2 separate regions of the Homo sapiens genome follow, and region 1 is linked to region 2. The links come from fine-mapping of genetic effects on gene expression. Tissue or cell type: whole blood. Region 2 holds a variant in brackets; the other region holds the start of a gene. Each region is shown on its reference strand, or each on the opposite one. Region 1 holds the start of CNN1 (calponin 1). Region 2 overlaps ZFPM2 (zinc finger protein, FOG family member 2).

Evidence for each region. PIP is the estimated chance that this variant, and not a neighbour inherited with it, causes the effect.
Region 1: CNN1 starts here. The variant in region 2 is the best candidate, but not a certain one, in a credible set for the expression of CNN1 in whole blood (TOPMed, PIP 0.61).

What each region holds. Positions count from the first base shown.
Region 1 is chr19:11,529,467-11,545,397 of GRCh38, reverse strand. CNN1 (calponin 1) reads right to left here and starts at 6,547. Exons shown (of 7, transcript NM_001299.6): 1 at 6,408-6,547; 2 at 4,201-4,322. The coding sequence starts at 6,470. RefSeq lists enhancers at 3,738-3,857, 6,631-7,576 and silencers at 5,522-5,571, 9,000-9,369, 9,380-9,449.
Region 2 is chr8:105,562,129-105,578,059 of GRCh38, reverse strand. All of the region lies in intron 4 of ZFPM2 (zinc finger protein, FOG family member 2), which reads right to left. Among named protein-coding and RNA genes, the nearest start is that of ZFPM2, 250 kb to the right of the region's middle. The variant T/A (reference allele first, on the strand shown) is at 8,760.

The DNA.
Region 1 (15,931 bases), not on the chromosome of region 2:
TCCAGTCCCTCCAAAGTTCTTTGGCTCTGCCTTTTAATGAGTCCAGAAAACCACCCACTGCTCCCCGCCACCTCCACCTGGGTCTCAGCCACCAGAGTCTGTTTCCTGGCCTCTTGTAATGAGCTCCCAACTTCCACTTCATCCCCTACAGACCCACCCTTCTTCATCCAGCAGCCAGAATTTTTTTTTTTTTTTCCGAGATGGAGTCTTGCTCTGTCACTCAGGCTGGAAGGCAGTGGCGGGATCTCGGCTCACTGCAACCTCTGTCTCCTGGGTTCAAGCAATTCTCCTGCCTCAGCCTCCTAAGTAGTTGGGATTACAGGTGCCTGCTACCATGCCCAGCTAAATTTTGTGTATTTTTAGTAGAGACGCGGTTTCACCATGTTGGTCAGGTTGGTTTCGAACTCCTGACCTCAAGTGATATGCCCACCTCAGCCTCCCAAAGTGCTGGGATTACAGGCATGAGCCACTGCCCCTGGCCCAGAATGGCCTTTTTTAAACAGTTCAAGTTACCGTCCAGTTCCAAATCCTCCAGGAGCCTCCCATTGCCTTCAGAATGAAATCCTAAGTCCTCTGCCTAAAATGCCCTCTGTAGAACTGGGCACAGTGGCTCACACCTGTAATCCCAGTGCTTTGGGAAGCCGAGACAGGAGGATGGCTTGAGCCTAGGAGTTTCAGATCAGCCTGGGCAACATGGTGAGACCCGTGTCTCTACAAAAAAAAAAAAAAAAAAAACCCGAAAACTTCACCGGGCGTGGTGATGTGTGCCTGTAGTTCCAGCTACTGAGGAGGCTGGGGCTGAAGAGGCTGGGGTGGGAGGATCAGTTGAGCCTAGGAAGTCGAGGCTGTAGTGAGCTATGATTGCACCGCTGTACTCCAGCCCGGGCACCAGAGCAAGACTCTGTCTCTAAATAAATAAATGAAATAAAATGCCCTCCACCATCTGACTCTCAGTTCACTCTGCGACTTCATCTCCACTTCTGCTCAATCATTTGGTGCTCGTCACGCCAGCCTCCTTCTTGTTTCTTGAACACCCCAAGCACGATCCTACCTCACGCCTTTGCACTGGTGGCCCCCTCTGCTTTGCCTCAGGTCCCCTGAGCCCTCCCTCACTTCATCTAAGGTTCTGTTCAAATGTCACCTCTTCAGAGAGGCCTCCCAGACCACTCTCTAGGAAACTGCAGACTCTCCACCCGCAGACATATACCTGACCCTCCCATCTTCCCTTCCGCTTGAGTTTTCCCCAGGACACTTACGACCACAAATCTGTGATTATTTGATCAATTATATGATTGATCTCCTCAACTGGACTAAAAGTCCTTGAGCTCTGAGTCGAGTCTGTTCTGTTCACTGTTCCCAGTGCCTAGGCCAGAGCCTGGCACACAGCAGGAACTCATAAATGCTTCTTTTGTGAATGAATGAATGAATGAATGAGTGAATGACCGGAGTGCGTGGGTGACTGCACTACACTCTTTTTTTTTTTCTTATACTTTAACTTCTGGGGTACATGTGCACTATGTGCAGGTTTGATACATAGGTATACATGTGCCATTTTGGTTTGCTGCACCCATCAACTCGTCATTTACATTAGGTCTTTTTTTTTTTTTTTTTTTTTGAGACGGAGTCTCGCTCTGTCACCCAAGCTGGAGTGCAGTGGTGGGATCTCGGCTCACTGCAAGCTCCGCCTCCCGGGTTCACGCTATTCTCCTGCCTCAGCCTCCCGAGTAGCTGGGACTACAAGCGCCTGCCACCACGCCCGGCTAATTTTTTGTATTTTTTTTAGTAGAGACAGGGTTTCACCGTGTTAGCCAGGATGGTCTTGATCTCCTGACCTCGTGATCCGCCTGCCTCAGCCTCCCAAAGTGCTGGGATTACAGACGTGAGTCACCGCGCCCGGCCCACTCTTTTATTATTATTATTATTATTATTATTATACTTTAAGTTCTAGGGTACACATGCACAACGTGCAGGTTTGATACATAGGTATACATGTGCCATGTTGGTTTGCTGCACCCATCAACTTGTCGTTTACATTAGTTTTTTTTTTTTTGAGACAGGGTTTCACTGTTGCCCAGGCTGGAGTGCAGTGGCGCGATCATAGCTCACTGCAGCCTTGACCTCCAGGGCTCAAGCGATCCTCCCACCTCAGCCTTCCGAGTAGCTGGGACCACAGGCGCATGCCACCATGCCAAGCTAATTAAAACAAAAATGTTTTGTAGAGATGGAATCTGGCTATGTTGCCCAGGCTGGGACTGCACTGTTTGACGTCTGAGCAGTCCTCTGCCTGAGCTGGGACACCAGCATGCCTACCTCCCCACCTGCCAATTCCTTGTTCCTAGTGGATGGGAATGGAACAAGGTAAACACCCCCCACACCCCTTCTTCCCAGCATCTAGGACTTGATGAAGCTGCACCTTCAAAGTCTTCCCGAGGCCACTCACAGTCACTCTGCCCTGGGTCAGACTCAAATGCAGATCGGGCGCAGGCTGGGTTTAGGGCCCTGCTATGCATTAAGATTGCAGTGGAGCCGGGCGCGGTGGCTCACGCCTATAATCCCAGCACTTTGGGAGGCCGAGGTGGGTGGATCACAAGGTCAGGGGTTCGAGACCAGCCTGACCAACATGGTGAAACCCCGTCTCTACTAAAAATACAAAAATTAGCTGGGCGTGGTGGCGGGCACCTGTAATCCCAGCTACTCAGGAGGCTGAGGCAGGAGAATTGCTTGAACCTGGGAGGCAGAGCTTGCAGTGAGCCAAGATCATGCCACTGCACTCCAGCCTGGGTCACAAAGCAAGATTCCATCTGAAAAAAAAAAAAAAGATTGCAGTGGAACTGGGGCTTGGGAGCTGTTAGGGTTTTCACCTCCCTCAGCAATGAGGTTTTGAGGCGAGGAGAAAACCAGGGCCGGCAGGGTGCAGTGGTTCATGCCTGTAATGCCAGCACTTTGTGAGACTAAGGCGGGTGGATCACTTGAGGTCAGGAGTTCGAGACCAGCCAGGCCAACATGGCAAAATCCCGTCTCTACTAAAAATACAAAAGTTATCCGGGCAAGGTGGTGGGCACCTGTAATCCCAGCTGCTCAGGAGGCTGAGACACAAGAATCACTTGAACCCGGAAAGCAGAGGTTGCAGTGAGCTGAGATCATGTCACTGCACTCCAGCCCGGGTGACAGAGGAAGACTCCATCTCAAAAAAAAGAAGAAGAAGAAGAAGGTCGGGCGAGGTGGCTCATGCCTGTAATCCCAGCAATTTGGGAGGCCGAGGCAGGTGGATCACTTGAGGTCAGGAGTTTGAGACCAGCCCGGTCAACATGGTGAAACACTGTCTCTACTAAAAAAAAAAAAAAAAAATACAAAAATTAGCCAGGCGTGGTGGCATGTGCCTGCAATCCCAGCACTTTGGGAGGCCAAGGCAGGTGGATCACTTGAAGTCAGGAGTTCAAGACCAGCCTAGTCAACATGGTGAAACTCCATCTCTACTGAAAAAAAAAAAAAAAAAACAAAAATTAACCGGGCATGGTGGCACGTGCCTGTAATCCCAGCACTTTGGGAGGCTGAGGTAGGTGGATCAATTGAGGTCAGGAGTTCGTAACCATCCTGGCCAACATGGTGAAACCCCATCTCTACTTTAAAAAAATACAAAAATTAGCCAGGCATGGTGGTGCGTGCCTGTAATCCCAGCTATTGGGGAGGCTGAGGCAGGAGAATCACTTAAACCCTGGAGGCGGAGGTTGCAGTGAGCCGAGATTGTGTCTCTGCACTGCAGCCTGGGCAACAGAACAAGACTGTATCTCAAAAAAACAAAAAGAAAACAGAAAGAAAACCAGGGCCTCCTTTAATTATTGCTGCACATCTCTCCTCACATCACCAAGCCAGCCATGAACAGCTGTTGGCTGCTGCCTTTTAGCTGTGACCGCTCTTTCTGGGGACTCTGGCGGCCACAGATGGGCCTACCCTATATAGCATGGTGGTTAAGATTCTAGAGTCATTTCCCTTGAAACCACGTGGGACTTGGTGCAATGCATTTCACCTGAGCCTCAGTTTTCTGTGCCTGTTAAATGGGCACAATGATTACTGGCCACCCCAAAGGTATCCAATAGAAAGTGTTCAACTCAGTTCCAGGATCATGGTTGTTTTGGGGGTTGAGGGGCTGCATGGAGTTGGGGGATGTTGCAGGGTCTCGGCTTCGAGAGCCTCACTCACTCGCAAAGAATGATGCCATCTTTGAGGCCGTCCATGAAGTTGTTGCCGATGCGACGGCCTGTCACCCCCTCGATCCACTCTCTCAGCTCCTGCTCCCGCTGGTGGTCATACTTCTGGGCCAGCTGGGGCGAGGGGAGGGCAGGGGGCACAGAGAAAGGGGTGAGGATGCATTGGGGGCAGCCTGGGCTCCCTGGGTCCTGTCTGAACTTCCTAGAGCCTGATCTCCCTCGTCCTTCCCAACTAAGGCAATTTTGCCCCAGATCCATAGTTGGGGGATGGGGGCTGGGGCGGGCTGAGAGCCAGGGCTGAGGTGGCACCTGCCCAGGGGGCCATTCCGGGCATTCTGAGGTTTGGCACCAGGGAATGTAGATGAGGGGTGGGGTGTGGGGAGCTGGATCCTCTGAGCTAGAGGGGTGGCACCCGGCACCCTGGTTTTTCGCCCAGGCCAAACTTGGGGCTTCTCTTCCTCTAGCCCTGCCCCCTCTGTGCCCCCTGTTGGAAGAGAGGGCACCTCAGGAAGGGAAGAAGGATGTCTAAGGAGGTGTCCCTGGGTGCTGGCTTGCAGAGGAGTGCTGGTCATACATCTCTGTCTCTCCGTGTCCCCCAGGTCTTCAGCTCCAGGGCTCTGTCTCTGGTTAGTGGTGGGGGCTTGTCTCTGTCTTAGCCCCCACCCCTTGCACGTCTGTATGTCTCTCTCCCTCTTATCCCCCCGACTCCTCTGTCTCTCTCTTCCCCAGCGCTGTCTTTTCTTGGCCCAGTCTTGGGTCCCCATCTCTCTAGGTGGCTAGTCCCTGTCTGGCCAGGGGTAGGGCTCCTGGGTCTTGTATATCTGCCTCTCTAGGTCTTTCTCTGTCTCCAGGTTTCCTGCCTGGGGTGGGGGTGGTGGGGCTCTGTCTCCTCTCCCTGCCCCTCCATCCTTGTCTAGGTCTTATCTCGCTCCTGGCTCGCCCTCCCCCGTCTGTCCCTAGGGTGTCTCAGGCTCCCAGTATCTCTGTCTGCCTCTCCCCCCACCTCCCTGCTTTTCCCTCTCTCCACTGTCCCCCCCCTCCCCCACTCCACTCCCATTTCTCCAGAACCCTCCGCCCAAGCCCAGCCAGGCTCCCAGCCCCTAGGGGACCGGGCTGCCTCTTCTTCTCCCGGGTGAGTGGGGGGAGGTGGGAGGGGCGGCCCCCTCACCTGGCCCTGGCCCTGCCGCCCCCCACGCCACCAGCCCGGCTTTATAAAGCAAACCGGCCCTTATATAGCGTGGCCCGGGCTCCCCGAGGCCGCCTTATAAGGCGCGGCGTCTCTGCGCGGCTCTGCGCGGCTCTGGGGCCGGCGCTGGGGGGGAGGAGGGCGGCGCTGGGATCTGTCTCTCGCCCGAGGACCCGCCCCCCACCAGCCCCCTCCTCCAGCCCCGAGATCCCTCGACCCAGGTTCCAACCCAGTCCCCCACTTCCTCACCATGGGACCCTGGGAAAAGCCACCCTGAGCCTCAGTGTTCCCCTCTGTCAAATGGGGCAGGAACTCCTCCCTCGGCAATACTGTTGGGGCGATTCCAGTGGGCTGGAAACTTAAAGTTCTCCAGCTGGGAGAAGCTGAGCCCATCCTGGTGTATGGGGGGTGAGTCCAGGGTCCGAGCGCTGTACCTGCTTTACCTGGGACCCCAGCTATTTGCCTCTCCTCTCCGAACCTCAGTTTACCCAACCATAGCATGAAGGTGGTGTCCAGGTATCTTCCTAGCTCCACAGTCAGGAGACCCCTGCCGCACTTCTGATGCCCGCTTCCTGCCTTTCACCGTCCCCCTCTGTCTTCAGGATCTCCCACACTTTCACGGCGTCACTTCCCAGGTACCCCAGCACTCAAGCGCTCCCCAATTTCTTTGTCAGGCCGGGGGATATGGAAAAATCAACAAGTCTTCCCCCTATGTTGTTCCCCCCAAGAACACGAAGGGTTAACAGAAGACTGATCAGGTGGGTATCTTTGCAATGGACTGACCCCCTCTGTTTATGTGTGGCTGTGTGCCCCCCCATTCCAGCCCCAACCATAGCTGGGGGCTCCGGGATGTTCAGGGGGAGACAGGCAGCCCCTATCCCATATCACTCCCTTTTCCCCTCTCAGTTTCCAAGTCACATAGGATAGGCAGGAGGGGGTTCAAGGGACCCCAAGCTCAGGGCTCTGGCCTGGCAGGACGTGTGGGCCAGGCCAGGGAGGCCCTCCAGCCCTACCTTGTTCTTAACCTCGGCTGACAGCCCGTAGGCAGGGCCTCGGTTGAAGTGAGCAGAGGACATGCTGGCCGGTGGGCTCTGGCGGGGGCAGTGGCGGCACTGACGCTGAGAACAGAGGCAGCGGCTGAAGTTCCGTCTGCACACTCTTCCCTCCTCACATGTTTTTGAAGCTCCGGAGGCGACCCGGGTCTCTTCCAGGGCCGTTCCATTGGCTGTAGGGGCCTGCCAAGGGGCGGGGCACCTCCCCCCACAACCTCAGCTGCCTTCCCCTCCCCTTGTGATGTCAGGCCCTTGGTATTGGGAGCTGATTGTGTCATTGTTTCCACCTAGGGGGGCAGCCTGCGTTATTCTGGGGGGGCTTGGTCAGACAGAGACCAGCCTTCTTCCACCCACCCCTCCCACTGTCCATTGGGCCTCTGGCTGGGTCTGAGTCTCTTTGTCTCTGAGGTCATCTCTCTTTATCTCTCTGGAGTCTTGAAGCAGGACTGACACCCAAGGTAGTTTAGTGAGCACCATCCCGGGTTTATCTCCAGATACCAACAGTCTATAGCCTTAGGTAAGCCCCTTCTCCTCTCTGGGCCTCTATGGCCACATCTGTAAAATGGGCTAACGATAGTGCCTGCCTCATGGGAGAGTTGTAAAGATCAGAAGAATATGCCTGTTACATGCCCAGCACAGTGCCCGGCACAGCAGAGGGACTCGGGCCATAGCAGTCTTTTTAAGGCAAGGTTTCACTCTGTCCCCTCGGCTGGAGTGCAGTGGCACAATCACAGCTCACTGCAGCCTTGACCTCCCAGGCTCAAGTGATCCTCCCATCTCAGCCCATCCAAGTAGTTAGAATTGCAGACTTGTGCCACCAACCTGGCTAATTTTATTTTATTTTTTTAGAGATGGGGTCTCGCTATGTTGCCCGGGGTCTCGCTATGTTGCCCAGGCTGGTCTCAAATTTCTGGGCTCAAGCAATCTGCCCGCCTTGGCCTCCCAAAACGCTGGGATTTACAGGCATGAGTCACCATGCCCAGCCTATAGCATTCTTTATGCTGAGGGTCCAGCACCCCAGTTCTGTCTCCTCCAGCCCCTCATAAGGACCTGGGGGAGAAGAGATCCTGGGTCTCACCCTCCCCATCCACTTGTGTGTCACCTGAACTACAGGGTGACTTTGTTGGCAAGTCCCAGGCCGTGAACTGTGTCCCTGTCAAACAGCCCTACCCAGCCAGATCTCACCCCTGGACCACAGGGGTGGATGCTATGCCCACATCATGCCCCACATGGCAAGGCCATGTTTGTGACACTTGGATGACATGTCTGCAACCTGCCACACACTAATGATATGTTGAGGATATGCAGTTTATCGGTCACATGCTAATGGCATGGCTGCAATATGCCACAGACTACAGCCCTTATGTCAGGCCATGTTCCAACTCTGTACATATATCCATTCAATTCTCATGACGCCCTCAGAGATGGACACTGTTATTATTATTATTATTATTATTATTATTATTATTTGGAGACAGAGTCTCTATTCCCCAGGCTGGAGTGCAGTGATGCTATCTCGGCTCACTGCAACCTCCACCTCCTGGGTTCAAGCGATTCTCCTGCCTCAGCCTCCCAAGTAGCTGGGATGACAGGTGTCTGCCACCACGACTGGCTATTTTTTGTATTTTTAGTAGAGACGGGGTTTTGCCATGTTAGCCAGGCTGGTCTCGAACTCCTGACCTCAGTTGATCTGCCCACCTCGGCCTTGCAAAGTGCTGGGATTACAGGCGTGAGCCACCGTGCCCAGCTGACACTGTTATTATTAATACAAGTACTTTGCTTTACAGGTGGGGAAACTGAGGCACGGGGGCTTGGAATCACTTTTTCAGCGTCACACAGCAGGCCAGGGGCAGAGGAGAATTTGAGACCATGCTCCATGAACCTCAACTATGAGGCTAAGGTGGGGTTTCTCAACCTCCACACTGTTGACAGCTGAGGCTGGATAATTCTTCATGGTTGGGGGGCTGCCTTGGGCATTCATTGTAAGACTTCAAGCAGCATGCCTGGCCTCTACCTGCTACATGCCAGTAGCACTCTCTTAGTCCTAATAAACAGAAATGTTGAGGCACTGCGGCAGGACCCTGTAGTCCCAGCTACTAAGGAGGCTGAGGTGGGAGGATCCCTTGAGCCCAGGAGTTTGAGAACCATCTGGCCAAGATAGCAAGACCATGGTCTCTAAAAAAGAAAAATTAAAAGAAGAAATGTCTACACACATTGCCAATGTCCCATGATTGGGGTCGGGGTGGAAGCAGATCACCCCTGTTTGCCAACCACTGAGCTAAGGCAATGTGCTAGTTGATGGCATGTCATGATATGTTGAACATACACGAAAATACATAAAATACGAGGCCAAGGCGGGAGGATCGCTTGAGCCCTGGAGTTCGAGACCCGAGACCAGCTTAGGCAACATAGCGAGACCCCGTCTCTATTTAAAAAAAAAAAAAAGAAAAAATAGAAAGTACATAAAATGAGCTAACAATTAGCACCTGCTACGTACTAAGAGCTTTGAGCCTGTTAACTCATTCCTCACGACAGCCTTATGAGGTGGGTCTATACGAGGCACAGAGAGGTGACGCCGAATGGCCGGGTCACACAGCTCGAGGGTGGCAGGGGCGGGATTCGAACGCGCAGATTCCTGGATCCCTCCCAAACTGAGCGGCCCTCGGGGGCCGCAGTTCGCTACTGCGCATGTGAGGACCTGCAGCCGGCGCCCCCTGGCGGCCCGGGAGGGGCGGGGGCGGGACCTGGCGAGGTCCAGGCGGCGGTGACGTCACGCGATGACTCACTCGGCCCCGCCCCCCGGCCCGCGGCCTCTTGGCCATTTATAGAATCTGCACGGACTCTGAAGTCACGGCCCAGGCACGACGGGGGCGGGGTGGGGGAGCTCTTGGCGTGCCCCCCAACGGGGCAGCCCCGGGTACCCCCAGGGGGCAGCCCTTTCGGGGACTGCCTTGTCCCTCTGATTGTAGTAGGTCTGTGTCTCTGTATCTCCGTCTCTGGGTCGCTGAGCCTTTTTCTGTCTCTGCCTTTGTCTCTGTGTCTCTGTTTCTGTGCCTGGTCTTTGAGTCATTCTGTTTCTCTTCATGTCGCTGTCGCTGTATTGTCCGTCTCTCTTCGCGTCTCTGTCTGGTAGATGGGGGTAGAGGCATTAGAGGGGGCTGATCCCATATCGAGGCCCCAATCCCAGTAGACACCCGAGTGTCATCCCTTATTCGCTCCTTTCTGGCATTTTCCAGGCTCTAGCCCCTCTGTGCCTCAGTTTACCATCTAAATGAGAAGTGTAGGATCTTGTAAGAGGCACGGTTTCCCGAAGGGTCTAGGACAGTCATTGTAGGAAAGCCATGCCTCTCCTCAACTTCAGGGGACCCCCTAAAACCTTCCTGATGCTCAGAACCATTTAAAACTCACACTTGGCCGGGCGTGGTTTCTCACGCCTGTAATCCCAGCACTTTGAGAGGCCAAGGCGGGTGGATCACCTGAGGTCAGTAGTTCAAGACCAGCCTGACCAACATGGTGAAACCCCGTGTCTACTAAAAATACAAAATTAGCCGGGCATGGTGGTACATGCCTGTAATCCCAGCTACTCGGGAGGCTGAGGCAGGAGAATTGCTTGAACCCGGCATGTCAGGCAGAGGTTGCAGTGAGCCAAGATCACACCACTGCACTCCAGCCTGGGCCACGGGAGTGAGACTCTGACTCAAAAAATGTAAAAATAAAAATAAAACCCACACTCACACGTGTTTGTCTGTGTGTTTTGGGGAAAGTCAAAGCCCTGCTCTGCACCGGCCTATCTTGGCATCCTGCTCTGCAAGCTCCCTCCTCACGAAGCTTTCCTATCCAGAAATCTGGCAGAGGCTCTTGTTCCTAAAGGCTTCTGTTATGGGAACACTCACTCCATGCCAGCCACAATCTCTTTTAATCCTCACCATCACCTTCTGAGGGTAGAAACTCATAGGTCCATTTTATAGATGGGAAACTCAAGGTTCAGAGAAGCCAAGCCACCCTCCCAGGTAACACTGTTTGTACCTTTTCTTCCAAGTCCCTCCAGATGTGCTGTTTCTTCTTCTTCTTCTCCCTCTTCTTCTTCTTCTTCTTTCTTCTTTCTTCTTTCTTCTCCTTCTCCTTCTCCTTCTTTCTTCTTTCTTCTTTCTTTTCTTCCTCTTCCTCTTCCGCTGCTGCTGCTGCTCCTTCTCCTTCTCCTTCTTCTTCCTCTTCTTCTTCCTCTTCCTCTTTTTCTTCTTGTTCTCCTTCTTCTTCCTCTTCTTCTGCTGCTGCTTCTCCTCCTCCTCCTTCTTCTTCTTTCTTCTTTCTTCCTTCTCCTCCTCCTTCTCCTTCTTCCCCTTCTCCCTTCTCTCTTCTCCCTTCTCCTTATTTCTTCTTCTTCTTCTCCTTTTTTTTTTTTTTTTGAGTCAGAGTATCGCTCTGTCGCTCAGGTTGGAGTGGCATGATCTCGGTTCACTGCAACCTCCACCTCCTGGTTTCAAGCAATTCTGGAGCCTCAGCCTCCCAAGTAGCTGGGATTACAGGCACCCGCTACCACGCTGGGCTACAGATGTGTTTCTTGAGTCCCCAAACATGTTCCCACCTCAGGGTCTTTACAATAGCAGTTCCTGCCACCTGGAACACATTTCTGCAAGATGCCTGCATGGCCTCTCCCCAACTTCATTCAGTCTCTGCTCTAATATCACCTCTCAGAGAGGCCTTCCCTGACCACCTGCTGTAAAATAATAGCATCTCTCACCCCCAGACTGACTGTGAGTGGGTGGACAGGGAGGGAGCTGTTCACTTATAGTCTGGGTGCAGTGGCTCGTGTCTGTAATTCCAGCACTTTGGGAGGCCAAGATGGGCAGATTGTTTGAGGCCAGCAGTTCAAGACCAGCCTGGGAGACATGGCAGGGCCCTGCCTCTACAAAAAAAAAAAAAAGAGAGAGAGCTTTTTAAAAAAGTGCATTTTGGGAGGGCAAGGCAGGAGGATTGCTTGAGCCCAGGAGTTGGAGGCTACAGTGAGCTATGATCATGACACTGCTTATTTTTTTTTTTTTTTTTTTTTTTACAGAATCTCACTCTGTCACCCAGGCCGGAGTACAGTGGCATGATCTCAGCTCACTGCAACTTCCACCTCCCAGGTTCAAGCAATTATCCTGCCTCAGCCTCCTGAGTAGCTGGGATTACAGGTGCCCACCACCATACCGGGCTAATTTTTGTATTTTTAGTAGAGATGGGGTTTCACCATGTTGGCCAGACTGGTCTCGAACTACTGACCTCAGGTAATCTGCTTGCCTTGGCCTCCCAAAGTGCTGGGATTACAGGCATGAGCCACTGTGTCCAGCCATGCCATTGCATTTTAGTTTGGGTGAAAAATAAATAAATAAGAAAAGAAAAGAATGCTTGACGGCCGGGTGTGGTGGCTCACGCCTGTAATCCCAGCACTTTGGGAGGCCAAGGCAGGCGGATCACGAGGTCAGGAGATCGAGACCATCCTGGCCAACATGGTGAAACCCTGTCTCTACTAAAAATACAAAAAATTAGCCGGGCGTGGTGGCGGGCGCCTGTAGTCCCAGCTACTTGGGAGGCTGAGGCAGGAGAATGGCGTCAAGCTGTGGGGCAGAGCTTGCAGTGAGCTGAGATCGTGCCACTGCATTCCAGCCTGGGCGACAGAGCGAGACTCTGTCTCAAAAAAATAAATAAATAAATAAATAAATAAATAAATAAATAAAAGAATGCTTGACAACATGTAACGCAGAGGAGGCTGTGGGAACATTGTTGATGAGTGTGGGCAATTTGTTGATAGTTTCCCAAATGACAAATGTCCTTACCTTCTGAACAAGTATATCCTCTATTTTAGAATATTCCTCAGAAGTACAAGTGTAGGTGTGAAGAATGACATATGTACAGGAACATTTATTGCAGTGGCCTTGTCATAATAAATCACTATAAATCCCATCAACCTGGGACAAGGGAGATAGACAAAGTTGAAGTTAAAACATATAGCATGTTGTTTCAACTAAATGAAGACACTGTAGCGCTGTGGTTAAGAGTGGGGACTCCAGCTGGGTGCAGTGACTCACGCCTGTAATCCCAACACTTTGGGAGGCTGAGGCGGGTGAATCACCTGAGGTCAGGAGTTCAAGACCACCCTGGCCAACATGGTAAAACCCCATCTCTACAAAAACTACAAAAATTAGCTGGGCGTAATGGTGGGAGCCTATAATCCCAGCTACATGGGAGGCTGAGGCAGGGGGTTTCACCATGTTGGTCAGGCTGGTCTTGAACTCCTGACCTTGTGATCTGTCTGCCTCGGCCTCCCAAAGTGCTGGGATTACAGGTGTGAGCCACCGCATCCGGCCCATTGCGTTTCTTTCTTTCTGTCTGTCTGTCTGTCTGTCTGTCTGTCTGTCTATCTATCTATCTATCTATCTATCTATCTATCTATCTTAGAGATGAGGTCTCACTATGATGCCCAGGCTGGACTTGAACTCCTGGGTTCAAGTGATCCTCCTGCCTCAGCCTCCTAAATAGCTAGAACTACAGTGCCACTGTGCCTGGCCCTCATTGCATTTAATTGTCATATCTCCATACATTCCTACAGTCTATAATAGTCCCTGGGTCTTTCAGGACCTTGACACTTTTGAAGAGTGCTGGTCAGTTATTTTGTAGACTGTCTTCGAGTTTGGTTTGTCTTGAATAAACTGAGGTGTTTGCATTACCAGGAAGAATACCAGAGAGGTGATGATGTATCCTTCTAAGTGTGTCATACCAAGGGCTTCATGATATCACCATGACTCATTGCTGGTGATATAAATGTTGGTCCCTTGGTTAAGGTGGTGTCTGCTAGGATCTTTCACTGTGAAGCTACTACTTTTTATAGGGTTCTTTCTGGGACTGTAATGTTAAAGATTCTGCACCAGGGCCTCACATATGGTGTTCTGTGTTAATACATACAGTACATAAAATATGTACATTCTTGGTTTTTTTGTTGTTGTTTGTCTGTTTGTTTTTTTGAGATGGAGTCTTGCTCTGTCGCCCAGGCTGGAGTGCAGTGGTGCAGTCTCGGCTCACTGCAAGCTCCGCCTCCCGGGTTCACACCATTCTCCTGCCTCAGCCTCCCGAGTAGCTGGGACTACAGGCGCCCACCACCACGCCTGGCTAATTTTTTGTATTTTTTTTAGTAGAGACTGGATTTCACCTTGTTAGGCTGGATGGTCTTGATCTCCTGACCTCGTGATCCACCCGCCTCGGCTTCCCAAAGTGGTGGGATTACAGGCGTGAGCCACCGCGCACGGCCTGTACCTACTTGTTTTTAAAAGACTACTGGCCTGGTGTGGTGGCACATGCCTATAATCCCAGCACTTTAGGAGGCCAAGATGGGTGGATCGCAGTACCCCAGGAGTTTGAGACAAGCCTTGGTAACATATTAAGATCCCATCTCTATTTTAAAATAATAATAATAGGCCGGGCATGGTGGCTCATGCCTGTAATCCCAGCATTTTGGGAGGCCGAGGCTGGCAGATCACGGGGTCAGGAGATCAGACCATCCTGGAGAACACAGTGAAACCCCGTCTCTACTAAAAATACAAAAAAATTAGCTGGGCATGGTGGCGGGCGCCTGCAGTCCCAGCAACTGGGGAGGCTGAGGCAGGAGAATGGCGTGAGCCCAGGAGGCGGAGTTTGCAGTGAGCCGAGATCGTGCCACTGCACTCCAGCCTGGGCGACAGAGCAAGACTCTGTCTCAAAAAATAAATAAATAAATAAATAATAATAATGACTGGGCACGGTGGCTAATGCCTGTAATTCTGACACTTTGGGAGGCTGAAGCGGGAGGACTGCTTGAGCCCAGGAGTTGGAGACCAGCCTAGGCAACATGGTGAAACTCCATCTCTACTAAAAATACAAAAATTAGCCGGGTATGGTGGCATGCGCCTGTAGTCCCAGCTACTCGGGAGGCTGAGGCAGGAGAATTGCTTGAATGTGGGAAGCGGAGGTTGCAATTAGCTGAGATTGCACCACTGCACTGCAACCTGGGCGACAGAGCCAGACTCCGTCTCCAAAAATAAAATAAAATAAAATAAAATAAAATATTAAAAGACTAGTTCTGGAAGGATAAATAAGAAAACAAAAGCCATGACCACCTCAAGAGAAGGACACCAATAACTCTGAAGGCCACAGCCAGGTCAGCGACCCCATCATCTTACCCACTCCCCAGCTAAGCAGAGCTGACTCTGCTTGCTTGTAGCTGCGGGAGCCTGGCAGAGGGCAGTAGCGCTCCCAGCCGCTGCCCACGTGCCTGTCAACTTGCCAGAGAGGAGTGCTCCAGCCAAGCAGCTGATTGGCTACAGGTTTTCTCAGATTGCCCAATCACAAGAGTTCTGATGAGGTGGATGTCCTGCGGCTGCGCAGAGTCCTTGAGGCATCCTAAGGGTAGGTTCTTGCATCCTAGTCTCCATGCCAGCTCACTGCGCCACAGAGGCTGAGGGACTGCAGAAATGGGCTTATGAGGGCAGATAGCCTTCCTTCCCGGGGGACACTGTTATTGCCAATAGCCCATTTTATGTGCTTATCCACCTTAGTTATTAACAGCCTAAATCTGGTGCTTTCTGGGGGAGACCAGGAGCCCCCATTACTCAATCTCACCTCGTTTTATCCCATTTCCTCCAAAGACTCCACTCCGACCACACAGAGTCTTTGCTGTTGTTCCCAGTGCCAAAAGCGTTCCCCAGATATCCAGATGGCTCACTCACTTCCTCCGGCCTTTACTCAAAGGACACCTCACTGAGGCCTTCCTATTTATTTATTTACTGAGACGGAGTCTCACTCTGTCGCCCAGGCTGGAGTGCAGTGGTGCTATATCGGCTCGCTGCAACCTCCACCTCCTGGGTTCAAGCAATTCTCGTGCCTCAGCCTCCCGAGTAGCTGGGATCACAGGAGCACGCCACCACGCCCCACTAATTTTTATTTATTTATTTATTTTTTGAGACAGAGTCTCGCTCTGTTGCTGAGGCTGGAGTGCAGTGGTGTTATCCTGGCTCACTGCAACCTCCGTCTCCCGGGTTCAAGCGATTCTCCTGCCTCAACCTCCCGAGAAGCTGGGATTACAGGCACCCACCACCATGCCCTGCTAACTTTGTATTTTTAGTAGAGACGGGGTTTCATCATGTTGGCCAGGCTGGTCTCGAACTCCTGACCTCAGGTGATCCGCAGGCCTCGGCCTCCCAAAGTGTTGGGATTACAGGCGTGAGCCACCGCGCCCTGCCCTATTTATTTATTATTACTATTTTTAGAAACAGGGTCTCACTCTGTTGCCCAGGCTGGAGTGCAGGGGTGCAATCATGGCTCGCTGTAGCCTCGACCTCCAGGGCTCAAGCGATCCTCCCGTTTCAGCCTCCCGAATAGCTGGGACTATGAGCATGCGCCATCATGCCCAGTTAATTTTTAAATTTTTTGTAGATAAGGGGGTCTCGCTATGTTGCCCAGGCTGGTCTCGAACT
Region 2 (15,931 bases):
CGTAATGATAACATTATTACCAAAGAACTCTATTTCTTAAGTCTAGAGATAAATACTGGAATCCAAAAATAAGATTCAGTATCCCTAATTCAATTAAATTGTTTGAATCTTGTAAAATTGCAAACATTTATTATACCATCTTAGTTAAGGTTACAGACAGTTCTCAATAATTTATGCTCACAGACAATGCACAATAGTGAAATAAAAACTCACAAAAGATCAAATAATATGGAAGCACTTTTCACTGCATGCATTTTTTTCATTTCTCACTTTTTTTTTTTTTTGGTTTCCTCACCATATTTGCCACTTTAATTAAATTGGGTCTTTTTATAACGCTCTATGTGGTCAATAATTGTAAACAACTTTTTCATCCTACAGATGAAATGCTCTACACTTGTTCTATATTACCTATTAGAGTACTTAAAGTATCTTCATGATAATTTTGCAATTCAGTTTTTCCATGATGTAAAATAATGAAATTATAAGAAAAATAATGTTAGAAACAATCTTAATATTTATAATATCTAAACTATGACAAGAAAAATATTGACTAAATCTGTGTATTTCTTTCAATAATAGAGGTGTGCTTTACTTCATAAGATTATTTTATTTGTGTAAGTTAAGAGTATAAAGAATAGGAAAAACATACAAATGTATTCATTTTTATCTTATTTGTTGGCTTAAAAATCAACTGTTTACTCTATATGAGCATGCATGTGCATGTATGTGTGTGTGCCTGCACACATGTGAATACTACTTTTTGTTTGTTAGGTTTACTTAAAAATATACATAAAGGCTATGGACAGAATTCAGTTCTATTTAAATACTCTTACATGAAGCAATTCTGTGTGGGAAGCATTCAGATTTTTGTATCCCACATTTTAGAAGAGTTCCTGACTTATGGAACATGCTAAATAAATACTGAGTCAAGTTTTCCTTCAAGACTTCTATGGCTGTATGTACAAAACATTAAAGAAAGAAATACATTTTAATAGTCATTTACTTGCTACTAGATTCAGCAGAGGAAAACTGTTAGAATAGTTATGAAATAAGGGAAATGATTATTCCACTACCCTTTCATATGACTGTAAAGATGATAAAAATAACATACCACTATAAAGGAAACTAATAAAAGATAGCTGAAGCTTGAGCAAAATAAACCATTATAGGAAGGCACACAATATGGCTGGAGATTTAGTTAGGGTGACATGTCCAAAAGGGACCATCCCTACTCTTTCATGCAGACAATAGCCAACTGTTTTGCTTGGGTCCATTCTAAAAAGCCTTCTTAATGATTAACTTCAAGTGAAAATAAATGACCATATAAAAATACATAAATGGCCATATAAAAATCTGAAAGCTCTTTACAAAGTAGGAGCATTAATATACAAATACATACAAATAGATCTATCCTATCAAAGCTTTTTTAGAAACAAAAAGTTGTCTTCCAATATGACAGGATGTGTCACTTTTCTTCTATCTTTCTTTGTATTTTCACACAGACATTATTTTAACCAATAGTTAAGAGTCTGAGTTAAACTCACCAAAACAAGAACGTTAAATCTGAAGGTGGAGTTGCCCTCTACCAATCAGGTCTCAGCAGTGGGGAGCAAACATCACCTCCAAGCAGCTAAGTTTTTCTAGATAAGCACTGGACTATCCATGGTATGTGAGGTATTTCCCTATCATTCACTCATCTGACAACCACTGTTTTTAATTTTTTGTGCCTCTATGTTTATTCATAAGACACCAGGCCAATAGTAGGAGGAATAGTTAAAAAAAAAATCTCAGCATCATCTATAAGCTTAAAGATACTTAAACTTTACAGTGTATTGACTTGATGCCCACTTTTCTTGACCATGTTTACTAATTGCTCTGCGTATATATTATTACCGTGTGCTGTAAGATAGTGGTTCTATTTTGCTGGAGCTTTAGCTGTCTTTTTATTTTTTCCTTCATGGGTAGGAATGATTTTATTTTAGCTGTCCTAGGAATAGCAGATCCGTTTCTAAAGCTCACTAGAATTTTCTTAGCTGTATGAATTATGTTTGAAACATTTAATGTGTATTTTTTAAATGCAGAGTAAAAATAGCCCACTTATTCCCCTTTCAAAAATCTCAATAAATAACAAAGGTACATTAGGCTCCAAAACAGCTTAACTGAACCATATGTGGATCCAAAGGCCTGCCAAAATGGAATCAGCATTATGAAAGATAGCTTCATATTTCATCTAGCCATAAAATAGGAACCCACAGTATATAAAATGTACAGGCCACTTGTACAGAGCTCATGATGACAGTGAATTGAACACTCATTGTCAACAGAATAAAAGTGACCTAATACATACTCTGACAGGTTTCTTGAGTTTGGATATTTTTTTTCTTTTTCTGTCTTTTTGACCTGGATTGACTAATCACAGATTATGGAGCAAATGACTTAAAACAGCATCTTGAACCTATGCCCCTATGACAGTCACAGAATTTTACCATTAAAATATTTCATTAGAAAATCTTCAAGAAGCAGCAGAAGGTTTGGCACTGAAGCCTTAGGATCCCATTAAGGGCCTCTGCCATATTCCCTAGCTCATCTAGTCCAAAACAGCACACTCCACTCCCACGGAGTCTCTCCAAAGCCATTTTGAATCCTCTTTTCCCTTATCAGGCTGATACAGACCTGCATCATCCTCGGAGCCTTCTGACAGGGGCTACAACAATTGGGGAAAGGGAGGGGGGTGATACAACGGCTCATTGTTTCCTTTCACAAAACCCTGCCACAGGGCGCAGATTAACACCAAAAAATAGATGGCTGCAACCAAAGAGAAACATTTTTCAGAATGCCTCCACTTGATTAATGAAGTAATGGAGCCGACCACTGTTTGACTTTCATCACGCACTCTTCCTCCCTCACCCCTTCTCCTCCCGGAATATCAGCAGAGGCGGGGGGACACTTGTGCACATGTCTGCCTCCTTTGAAGAGTTGTCATTTTCACAAAGTTTTGAAGAAATGCACCAAGAATAACACTGCCTAGGTTTCTTGCTGAAAATATTCAGATAAAGGACAAATTTTCTTTCCACCACTTCTGTACTTCTTTAATAAAGGCAAGTGCTATTTTTTTTTTTCCTATAGGAGCTGAATTTAACATGTACTTGGGTCCTGATGCCTATCTCAGATGCACACATGGATATAATTGGGTACCTTTAAATGCACTAATATGCTGCGTGTGCCTGGGCAGCAGTGGCTTTCAGAGGAGAGGTGGTAATGCCGCATCCGAGATTAGGATCAGAACCTGAGGGACTCTTACTGCTCCTGTCTGCGGGGTAATGCTTACACTATTACACATAGGGTAATGAGGTACAAATGGTATTTGTTTGACTTCTTAATAAAAGCTAAAACTTAAGGCACGTGACGTGCCTCTGCTCTTCCAAAACTCTGTCCCCATTTCTTCATATTTCACAGTACATCACTGTCTGCATTATGACTGCCTTATTCACTCCATTCTGTATGGAGCTCTAAAATGCCATAAATAATGAAAGAATTGAGTTAACATTTTAAAATACAAACCTAACTCAAAAGTGAATCAGACAGGGTAAATTACTTTTCCAATTGTCTGAAATCCCCAATCACACACCTGAGAAATGCTTTCTGAAGAATAACTCCCTACAAAAAGAAAACTCAAAGAAGCCAAGATCATTCAAAAGGCAGTTTGACCACTTAACCTTTCTTTCTCTTCCTAAAAATATGTGTTTTTCCTCTATGGTGACTGTCTGCTTAGATGATAAATGCACTAAGTCCATACCGTTTACTTATCTAGGCTATGAGTTCTCAGAATATTCATGCCAGCTAATCAGTAAGCATGTGTGTGTATGGATACGTGTGAGTACACGTATATGAAGCTATATTCGTATGACAACAAAACCTGCTTTTTAAAGTATGTTTAGGGAGAGAACAGAAGAGAAAAGACTAGATGCACTGCTTGGGGAATTAAAGGAATGAATCATTTACTTTCTATTCACAGGCATAATAAAAGGAATCCAGGTTTGTTTAACAATCTGTATGTTTTTCAAAGTGACTAAATGCGTATAATTTTATATAACTTTACAATTCTATGTTGTAGGGCTGGTATAATAACCCCTATTTTATAAAAGAGGAAACTAAGAGCATGTATGATTACCCAAGATAGCACATCCACTTTGAGTAATAACAGGACTAGAATCAGGCTGTTCTGACCCCATCACGGGCTCTTTCCCATACTTTCTCTCCCACTTTTGATCTTTACAGTGTGTGGGTGTATATTTCTCAAAATTACCAAAGGAGAAGAAACACTCAGCAAACTACTTTTGATCCCCAATTCCCACCAAATTTTTGTACAAATCACGTTTTGTATATTTTAATTTGTCTTTATTGCAAAATTAATATCTAAATAAATTAATCAGGAAGCCACTGATCACAGATGTGAGAAACCATAAATATTTTAATGAATAATAATAAAATATACCTCATTTTCACAAATGTCTTTTACTTATTAATCTTTGATTTTGGTTATGATGCTGTATAGCATACAGTTTTGTTGTCTGTATTCAAGTTCACTGAATTTTCTTTTGTGATTGCTCCCATGGCTCTTGGTATTTGAAAGTCCTTCCCTATCCACAGGTCAGGTTAACTACTTATGCAAATTACCTTCTGTGGCAGACAGCCTCTGAGTTGGCCCCCAGTCATCCCAGCCTTCTGGTTTCAAGCTCTGCACAATTCCCTTCCCTAGAATTCAGCAAAAGTGATAGGATGCCACTCCCATGATTAAGTTACCAAAGCACTGTGGCTTTTGTCTTGGGCTCCCTGTCCTATGCTCTCATCTGCTTGCTCAGAGGGATGCCAGCTGCCATATTGTGAGTGGCCTTAAGTAGAGGCCCACTAGGCCAAGCACTGAATCAAGAGTCATTTGAGTGAGCATGTAAGCAGATCCTCCACTAGCTGAGCCTTCAGATGACACCAAGACCTGTCTGTCCCCTTGATTGAAGCCTTGTGGGAGACATTATGCCTGCGACAAGTTGTGCTCATTATTTTTAACCATCAGAAAAGGAACTAAAGTGTATGAGAAGAAAACCACAGACCAACCTACATAACTCTATGCTTTAGTCTGGTTTCCTGCCATTAAAAAATAGAAAGTGATACAAAATGGCACAGAAGACGCTGAAATTATTAGAATCAAGAAGCCACAGTTTTGTCAAGCTGGGACAAGGGGTTTTATGAGAAAATTGAAGTAAGAGTCAATGAATAATAAAGAACAACTTTAGGCTGGGCACGGTGGCTCATGCCTGTAATCCCAGCATTTTGGGAGGCCAAGGCACGCAGATCACCTGAGGTCGGGAGTTCTTCGAGACCAGCCTGACCAACATGGAGAAATCCTGTCTCTACTAAAAATATAAAATTAGCCAGGCATAGTGATACATGCCTGTAATCCCAGCTACTCGAGAGGCTGAGGCAGGAGAGTTGCTTGAACCTGGGAGGCGGAGGTTGTGGTGAACTGAGATCACGCCACTGCACTCCAGCCTGGGGAACAACAGCAAAACTCTGTCTCAAAAAAAAAGAACAACTTTAAATTCAATATTTAAATTAACAGGCAAAAATATGTTAATCTCCAAGAGAGTTTCTCAAATAATTTCTCAAATTTCCAAAGTATGTAATAAATATTACTTTATTATTCTCTTATTAGAAATTTATGCAAGAGGCTAGGTGTGGTGGCTCACGCCTGTAATCCCAGCACTTTGGGAGGCCAAGGCAGGCGATCACAAGGTCAGGAGATCGAGACCATCCTGGCTAACACGGTGAAACCCCATCTCTACTAAAAATACAAAAAATTAGCCAGGTGTGGTGGCGTGCACCTGTGGTCCCAGCTACTCAGGAAGCTGAGGCAGGAGAATGGCATGAACCCGGGAGGTGGAGCTTGCAGTGAGATGAGATCGCACCATTGCACTCCAGCCTGGGCGACAGAGCCAGACTCCGTCTCAAAAAAAAAAAAAAAAAAAAAAGAAATTTACCCAAGAATACTTGCCCCTGGACCACCACACAGCATCAACACAGAGCTTTATAGCAGTGGCTTGGAAAGAGTCACAAACTTGCCAATGCTAGGAAAACCTTATATGATAATAAAGGTTGTCAATGCCACCTGAGAGCTACAGTTAAATTATGAAACTTGGTGAATCCCATCCTGGGAATATTTATTGAAAATTAGATTAAAACCAGAGTCCAATATGTTATCAGAGTTTGACAAAGCATTATCCCTAAGTAATTTTGATTTTTAAGACCAAACTGAAGGAGTACAAACTGGTACCTATCTCCATTCTCTCTGTTATCATCTCCAAGTTACTGAATGTATTAATTGTCATGTCAAGCTGAGATTGATGCTAAGTCCTCATAATGCTGGCACAATATTTGTTACAACCATGTAAGCATATCCTGCCAAACTAATTGTTTTGAAATCAGTATAGAATGACAATTCCTCAAAAACATCAAATAGAAAGAATTTAAAAGGCATGCCAGACCTATCAGCACATAACAGAGGACAGTTTGGTCAACTCCATGAACAACTCTTCCTCACAGTGCTTTGTTACTTCTACCTTCCCCTCCAGGGAAAACTACATTTCAAGATTGATATTTTAGAATTTGTGTTACAAAAACAATAGTTATGCTTTACAAACCACTTCCTCACTAGTCAAGATGGTGATAGATTTCCCTAGAGAGGCAGGGATGCTATATATCCACCCACTTCCACCTTAGGCCTTCATGATTCTGTTTTTGGCAAATACGAAGAAATGACAGTAGCAATGAAATCTGCATTAAGAAAATTCATGTAAGGATCCCTATGTGTGGGAACAATCACAACTCCCACAAACAGTATCTGGAGCTATAAATCAATAGTGATTCTTCATCCTTCACACCGATCCTCTGTGGGAAAAGGTTATGTGACTCATTTGTCTCAACTTTACACACATAGAGTGGATCAGCTTTGATCATCTTATGATGACATAAACAATTCCTCCTTTCAGAAATTAATTAAATTAATAGCACTAATCGTCCTAATAACTGAAAAGATCATCTTCAACAAAAGTTCTCCTTGGAGTTCTGGGAAAAGGGAACAATGAATAATCTTGTAAAAATAATTCTTTTTAAAAGTTCAAACTTGGCCTAACTAAGGGTAAATAGGTTTAGCCATATAAACCAAAGGCCAAAATGTATTAAAATTTCAGGCAGAGGAGAGTAAGTTAGGTCCATAAATAAAATTGTCTATGTATAGCAAGGAATTGTGTTTCCACCTTTCAAATCCAAGTCCAAATGTAAAGAACCTGGAAAGACTTCACCATCAGGAGAAAAAGTAAGTCAGGATGAGATTGAGGTTAACAGGCTAGCTATACACAAAAGGTATTATTTTGGAGGCAAGTAAAAATTATCAGGAAGGGCACAAATTCAGGTTTTCATTTCAATACCATTGTGCCATATGACAATGTATTTTCATCCACTGCCAACATCATAACTATATCTGCATTATAACACAGCAAATCCCTTCAGATTAATATGCAATTGACCTCTCTGGCTTCTACATATTTCAATTGTGAAATAATTCTTCGGTGTTTAATTTCTTCCTTTCTGACTCACATTCAATAGCAGGCCTTTGATTACTGAGGCCTCCACACAAACTTCTTTCTCCTCTTTCCCTGAGTAATCCCCCTCCATCAAAAAAAAAATAAATAAAAATAAAAATCAATAAAACAACAAAAACCCTACCCTAATTCTAGAAACCAAACCAACGCATCACTTTCCAAGGCTCTGCTGCATTACATTTCTTGCCTTCAAGTCTTCTTTGAGCAGCTTTTCTGTCCACTCAGTTTCCATTAATTCTCCACATAGCAGATAGAGTATAAGAGAAGCCAGGATCTTGCCCTCCCTAAGGGACAAATCTACAACCTCCATCAATAATGAATTTCACCAATGTTTCCCAAGAGGAACAGGGTACAATTAAAAAGGTTATAAGTCCTTGCACTACTAGAACCTAAGGGCGTCTGTGAATGAAACTGGCTTAAGCCCAATTAGAGGAATCAGTACATTTGTCTTCTCTTGGAACAATCTTGCTCTTACGGTTCCCATCAATTCAGTATAAATCTGACTGATCTTATCCAAGAAGTTAATAGAAAATTGCTCACAGTGGGCGACTGCCACCTCAGTTTCCAAGCAGAGACAGATGGAATTTCCCAGATGGTTTGTCACTGGAACGTGTGAGGCTGGATGAGACTTCACAGAAAGCATGGTAGAGCAGAACACCTTCTTGGCCTTCACCCATGTCATAGTGAGGGATCTAAAACTGAGTCTGTTGTAAACAAATCATAATTGCCTCACTAGGCGCAACACCTCATCCTCCTAGCTGCATCCAAGGGTTGCAAATCTTACACCGAAATTAGTCAACTTTTCTCAAGAAACCATCATGGGCATATCTCCTTATGAGATAAAAACTGAAGAAATAGACATAGTTATCTTGTCCTACTGAAGTTTCCTCTCAAACGAGACTAAAATAAAAGTGCAAGTCTATAAACAAATAAAACAGGTACAAGATAGCATTTCCTGTGGTAATTGCTCTGCTGAGTTAGGCAGATGAAGCAAGATCACAGACGAAACAGACATGGATGTAAAGCCTCAGGAAGGATGCAGGGTCTTGAATAAGGAGGGGTGTGCAGCTGTTCCTGATATGGAGAAAAGTGAAAGGAAAAAAT[T/A]AATGTGCTGATTCATTCAATGTTATTCATTGAGCTCTTAGTATAAGCTAGACATTGTTCTAAGTGGGAAGGATAGAAAGATAAAAAATAGATAATAAGCATATGGTCTGCAGGGGAGATAGACAAGCAAACAGGAGCTCACAGTTATGTGATCAGTGCTCTTATCCTAGTAAACCTAGAGCACCAGGGAAATACTCCAAGAGTGGTTATCTATTCCAGACAGGAGGCTTCAGAGAAGGTCTACCTTGGAAGTGACTTTGAGCAGAGTCTTTAAATAAGTATTGGACTTAGTGAGATGAAGAGAGATAGGTGGGGAGGGGGGAATAGGGGTTTCCAGGAGGATAAAACAGCATGACCAAATGTACGGATGTGGAAAAAAAATGGACATTCAGGGCACTGCATGTAGTTCAGAATGCCTAAAGTCTATAAGAGAGTGGAAAAGGGGTCAGAACTGGGGAGGTGAGCATCACCTGGGGAGGTGAGTAACAGGAAGGCCTTTTTTAGGCTTTACCAAAACCTTGGGGTATTCTCGTGCCCTTTAGAATGATTTTAAAGCACAGGAGTTAAGTGACTACTGTAGTTTTGCTTTCAGGACATACTGTGGTCTGAGTAAATAAAAAGATGACAAGAGAGAACAGAAGAATATTGTAATAATCAAGAGAGAAGCGGTGGGGCTTTCGACTAAAGCAGTGGTAGCAGGACAGAAAGAGGAGAACAATCATTACGAAAGCAGGAGTTATGATGCTTGGTTTCTGGACATGAAATGGAGAGTCTTGGAAGATGTTTGACTCTGAATAGAAGGAAAAAGAGATGGTAGTAGTTACAGGCAAAAGGAGAGAGGTATGGGTATGTGTAACTGTGTGTGAATAGCATTTGAGATGTGAGAAGGAGAGGTAGAAATGCAGAAAAGACACAGGATAATTGAGAGAATGGACTCCCTGCAGAGGTACGAAAGGAGAGGCAGAGGACTAGGATTAAAGGTGACTGAAAGCTGGAAGTCATGGAAAAGAGAGGCTGTCTGTGGAGACAGGAATAAACTCTCTTTGTGACTGTGTAGTTGGAGGAATTAAATGGGAAAGCTTGCAAAACAGTTGAAATGTGCTATTAGAGAAAGGGTAAAAAGCCAAGGTTAGAGATTTTTTTATTTAAATGTCATTTGTAAATTAGTAGCTGAAGCTTTGCAAGTGGATAAGCTCCCTGAGGCACTGGGAACAGAGGGAGAAGAGAAGAAAGGCCAGAAGTGTTTTGGGAAACACTCACAGTTAAATTAAAAAGAGCTAAGACCCAGAGAGATATGAGAAATAGGAAAGTATGGTAGTCCTGAGCCCAGATTAAAATGAATATTAAGAAGGAAGATATCATTCACAATGTCAACATCAATGAAATCTGAGGCTCAACAAAAAGTCATGCCTCAGCAAAATTATAAATTATGCCATTGAGATGGGAAAGATGGAGAATATGGGTGGAGTCAGTGAGAATGTTCCTGATAAGCAAATTCAATTCGATTAGATTTTTATTTTAAAGAGCAGTTATTGAATACCGATTATGTACCAGTAGTAGAGGTCCAAAATTGAATAATAAAGATTAAATAATTCTATGTCCTCTAGAATCTCAATAATAATTTGGATATTGCTTTTAAATTTATTTCATTATTACATCTTAGAGGCTGTCTTAGTATGGATTCCCCAGAGGCTTACCCTGAGACTGATTCAAATACAAGTAGTTTACTGGGAAGTTGATCCCAGAAAATTCCAGTAAGGTTGTGGCGAAGTAAGCAGGAAAGGGAAGAGGTCCACAAAATGTTCACTATCAAGGCAATCAGAGCTCAATTCCACTGCCAAACTCTAACAGACAATATAGAACACATCTTATATCCTAACCAAGAGGAAGGGAAGCGGAGGTGTTAGTCCACCAACTTTCTGTCCATCATTGGTTGAGGATAACCTTTGGGAATAGGAAATCTCCAGCACTTCCAGCTTTCCCAGCTTGCAAGGAGTTTGCTCTTAACGCTGGAAAAAAGTGCTCAGGTAGAAAAGTCACAGGTGTGCCCACTGAGCAGCCTTTGCCTATAGAGGTGAATGCTGGAGACATAGGTAGAGATATATTTGCTACAGGATATGTACAATATGAAGCTTGAAGACTAGCAATTATTAAGATAAAAGATGAATACTGGAAAAGATAAAACTGCAAAGGGATAAATGGAGGCAATTAATAATTCTAATTATAAGCAGGTAGATCAGGAACTTCTAATTTTTTCCTTAACCACATTTCTATAAAGATGACTATCTTAAAACTTTTAAGATGCAATTTGATACATGCATTATTTCATTATTAGGTCAACAAAATATCTATAGTGCCCTTTATATGTATATTTCATTTTTTTAAAAAAAATTCAGTATCACAAATACCCTGTGGGAAAATAATACATTTTATTCTGATTGAACAGAATAAAATGAGATTTCTCTGTCAAATTTCATTTGTTGAATTTAACAGGTTGCGATGAGTTTACTATTATGTTGTAAGTAATCTGGGGCTTTCTATTTAATTAACTATGTATGTTGTATGATTCCAGCAGTTGGCTGAATCCAATCAGAATAGTTAGCTATCAACAGTTGATAATATTTAAAAGCAAGAGAGGGCAAACGCCATTTAAATTTCAGACACCCAACCTTCCAAGTAATCACTGTTGCTTGATACTTGCTAAGCACTACCACGTGCTAGCACAGCTGAGATTTAGTTTATTGCAAGGATCTTTGTCCTTGGGAGAATATGGGGAAAATCTTCAAAGGTACAACATATAAACATAGATGTTCTAAAACACATCCAAACCAGATATTGATCAGAACTTAAGGTGATTTTTAAAATTTCTTCCTCATCAGTAGTCCTTTGATTTTTTTTCAGTGAATAAAACTGCAAAACTTTCAAAAACACCAAGTTTGTGCTACCATGATAGTATTTAATATAAGTTATTTCTGAGATATGAGGTGAGATGCTGGAAAGAAAGCTGGGCTCCCTCACTGGTATCAATTTTTTCAGGGGTATAAGGTCATACCTCAAAAAACTGAAACTTGCAAGGTAGTGCAGACCTTCGGAGCCTGTGATGGTTCATTTTAATTGCCAACTCACAGGGCGTTTCTGAATGAAATTAACATTTAAATCAGTGAACTCTGGGTAAAACAGACTGCCCTCCAAAATATGAATGGGCCTCACCCAATCAACTGAAAGCCCGAATAGACCAAAAAGACTGGCCTCCCTGCAGACGAGGAAATATCCCAAAGACCGCTATCGAACTTCATCTGCACCACTGGCTCTCCCGGGTATCTCATCTGACTGAGTACTGCAGATTTTGTACTTCCCAGCCGTCATAACTGGACAAGCCAATTCCTTATAACAAATCTCTGGCTATATACGTACACATCCTGTTGTTCTGTTTCTCTGGAGAATCCTAAGACAGAGCCCTTGGCAAACAGTCAAATTTAGGCATGTAAAAATCCCCTAACGCCAAGGTTTATAGTGTTACTTGTTTAATTTAAAGAGTGCTTTTTGCTTTAAAGTTGAAAGATTTCAATGGGTTCACTTCCACAGATTACTGACTAGTAAAAGTAGTTGAAATGTGTGGATAACTCACATATGCTATCTCATTTAGTCCAAAATTCCTATAAGCTAGGCAGTATTATTATTACCACATCACAGAAAACATTTCTAAGACTGGAGCATGTGTTATGGAATCAGACTGAGTTGACCTTAGGCTAGTTATTTAACTTCCCAAAGTAGCAGTTTACGCCTCTGCAACAAAGGAGATAAATATTATCTTCTCTTGCACTTGTGTAAGAAGTAAATATGATATAAAACATGTAAAGCACTTTGACCAGTATCTGGCCCAATGAAAGTATTTACTATGCTGCTGCTGCTATTATAAAACTTTTAAAGCATGAAGTATCTACCAAGATAATAAGGTGTGGACAAAAGATACTCTATTTCTATGTTCAGTGTGTTATATAATTCCAAGAACAACTTTTTGTCAAACTAATTTGTTTGGTGTTTCTGTGTTTTTTAAAATGTTCTATATACATCTAAATGCCTGGTCTGCAAAGGCTTCCTGCAGAAGGTGGCATATTGCTAATGTACTTGAAGATGGGGACTTGAAAGATATAAAAAGGATTTGACATCTGGCATGGTGACTCAATTAATTACTGTGTTGGATTAATTAGTGAGCTGAATCTCCCGAGCCAACACCATGAGTTTGAGCAGAGTAACATTACATCAGTTGGCGAATAAGCAATTTAAGAGAGTGCGCTAATCCAAATTTGATTCAAGGTTGGGTAGGGAAGGGGTAGTAGGCTATATATTTTATTATAAGGAATATTTATGATTTCAAATACATATTATAGTACTGTCCAAATTATGAGAGGTAACAAAACTCCAGAAGTCTTTGAATTAACTTTTAACTGCTCAAGTAGTCTAATTACATAATAAATATTTTGCCCATCGGGGAAAAAAAGGTATATTTCTAATTTTTGCATACTTCCTCCCAGAGATTTTTATAAATTTATGATTCATGTTAAGAAATCATCAACAATTTTATCATGCTCAAATCATGTTACAGATGTTATACTGAGAATGCAGTGTGGCAGAGTCTTTAAAAAAGCAGACTCTCGAATCAGAAGTGAGAATTTTTATTTTCTTATCTGTAAAATATGATTTATGATAGAACCAAATTCACAGGTTTTTTGGAGGACTAAATGAGCTAATCTATTTCCATTTTTCAGACATATATGTTAACCAATTTGATGTACAGTAGTAACAGTAGTAGGAATAATAATACTAGTAGTATTTAATGATATAAACTCAGAAGTAAATTTTGGAAGAGGATGTTATTTCAAAAGAAAAACATTTGAAAATATATTTTAGTGAGGCAACTAAATTTTAAAATAAGGAAAAATGCTGTATTTTAACTAAATAAAATAATCTGATATTTAAAGCCTAAGACAAAAGAAGAAAACTGAAGTATTAAAATTGTTTTCTATAAATAATAATCACCCATTACCCAATTGTTGATAAACTTAAGAGTAGTCATGTTTTAAATAGTATCAAAAATTCTGAAAATTTCATATAAGTTAACGCCTTTTAAAAATATTAAATATGGCATAAAATAGCTTTACAGTCATATAGAACTATTAAAATAGCAAAATGACATCAACTGTCTAAAATCAGAAATTATTTCAATGAAAAATAAAAAAATCAAACTTTCTCAGACAGGTTTATCTTCTATCCATCACGATTTAGCATATGGTAAAAATGTCATAAAACTACCATTCTGTATACATACAGAGAGTAATAGCAAGATTAATCAAAAATAGCATTTTAGTAAATATATCCTTTTAATATAGTAAACTGGAAAATGTTCATCTTGCATGTCAACTATAGCTGATACAGTGTCAGTACACTTTTGAAGAAATATACAAATGATTAAAGGTTGCATTGGTATCTGATACACTGTGATAAATAAGATAAATATGATATAGTTTAAAATGTTTAGTAAGCAATGCTAGAAGACAAACAGAAACTCCCAGATAAAATAAGTTCAGAATAGCATTTAATTCAATCTTTGATGTTTAGACAATCCTTCTCTTGCCTTTCTTAACATTCATTAGCTTGAGAAATGGGCACAGTTAATATTGCTCTCTGAAAGGAATCAATAAAACAATCTGTTAATACAACTCAATCAACTGAGGCCTGCATTTTGTGGCTACATCACAAATCTCTTTTGAAGTAGCTGCACTGGTCCACCTAGAACAAATTGCCCAGAATATTAAATATTTGGTCTGGACTGTAAGGTCAACTTGTTTGGTCCTTAAATGTATGTGAAAACCCCTACTTCATCCTTTTATGGATAAATACATGAATGTACAAAGTAATAAATATACCCCTGGGATCTCATGCACTCTTTAAAAGTTTGGTAACACAAATATTTCCTATTTATTCTAATCATTACTTTTAGTTGAACCAACAACCTCTGTCACATCCACATGGTACTGAATAAACGGAGATCCACATGTATCAATTTCTTTCATGTAATAACTTGAAGAAGGGATTTCCTTCATGTAATAAATCAAAAAAGGAATGTAATGTTGCTGAACCCAGTACACCTGTCGAAACCCCTCTGGGAGTTCTTATGTCCCTTTAGCATAGATAGGGTCATTTAAAAGTCACAAGACTGTTCCTACATAAATGGCATTTAGAGAGAAGGACTTTCAGGGGAATAAATACTTATAAAATTTCTGGATCCTCTAAGGAATATGAAACATTTTTCTTCCCAAATTTCATCACCTGTGTTATCACTTATTATAAGAGAGGTTTTCAGCTATTGTTTTTCTTTTATCCCATGTGGTAGGCAGAATAGCTCCTTGCAAAGATGTTTACATCCTGACCTCTAGAACTTGCGAACATTCCTTTGCATGGCAAAGAGAAATGAAGGAAGCAAATGGAATTGAGAGTGTTAATCAGCTGACCTTAAAATAGAGAAATTAGCTTAGACGACCCAGGCAGACACAGTGTAATCATAAGCATCCTTAAATGTGTAAGAGGGAAGCAGAAGAGTCAGAGATGGAATGTGGACGTGCGAAAGACACCATCAGGCCCTGGTGGCTTTGAAGATGGAAGGGGGTCTATGAGGGAAGGGCCACGGGCAGCCCTCAGAAACTGGAAAAGGAAGAAAACAGATTCTCCTATAAAGCATCCGAAAAGGAGTTCAGACCTGCAGACACCTTGATTTTAGCCCAGTGACACCCAATTTGGATTTCTGACTTCCATAACTGCAAGATAATAAGTTTATGTTGTTTTAAGGCACAAAGTTTGTGGTGAGTTGCTGAGGCAGGAATAGCAAACTTATATATCCAATTAAGAAATAAAGTTTAAATGTAACCAAACTACCTACCTTTCCATTTATTTATTTATTTATTTATTTATTTATTTATTTATTTATTATTTTGAGATGGAGTCTTGCTCTGTCACCCAGGCTGGAATGCAATGGCACGATCTTGGATCACTGCAGACTCTGCCTTCTGGGTTCAAGCAATTCTCCTGCCTCAGCCTCCCGAGTAGCTGGGACTACAGGCACCCGCCACCATGTCTGGCTAATTTTTTTTTGTATTTTTAGTAAAGATGGGTTT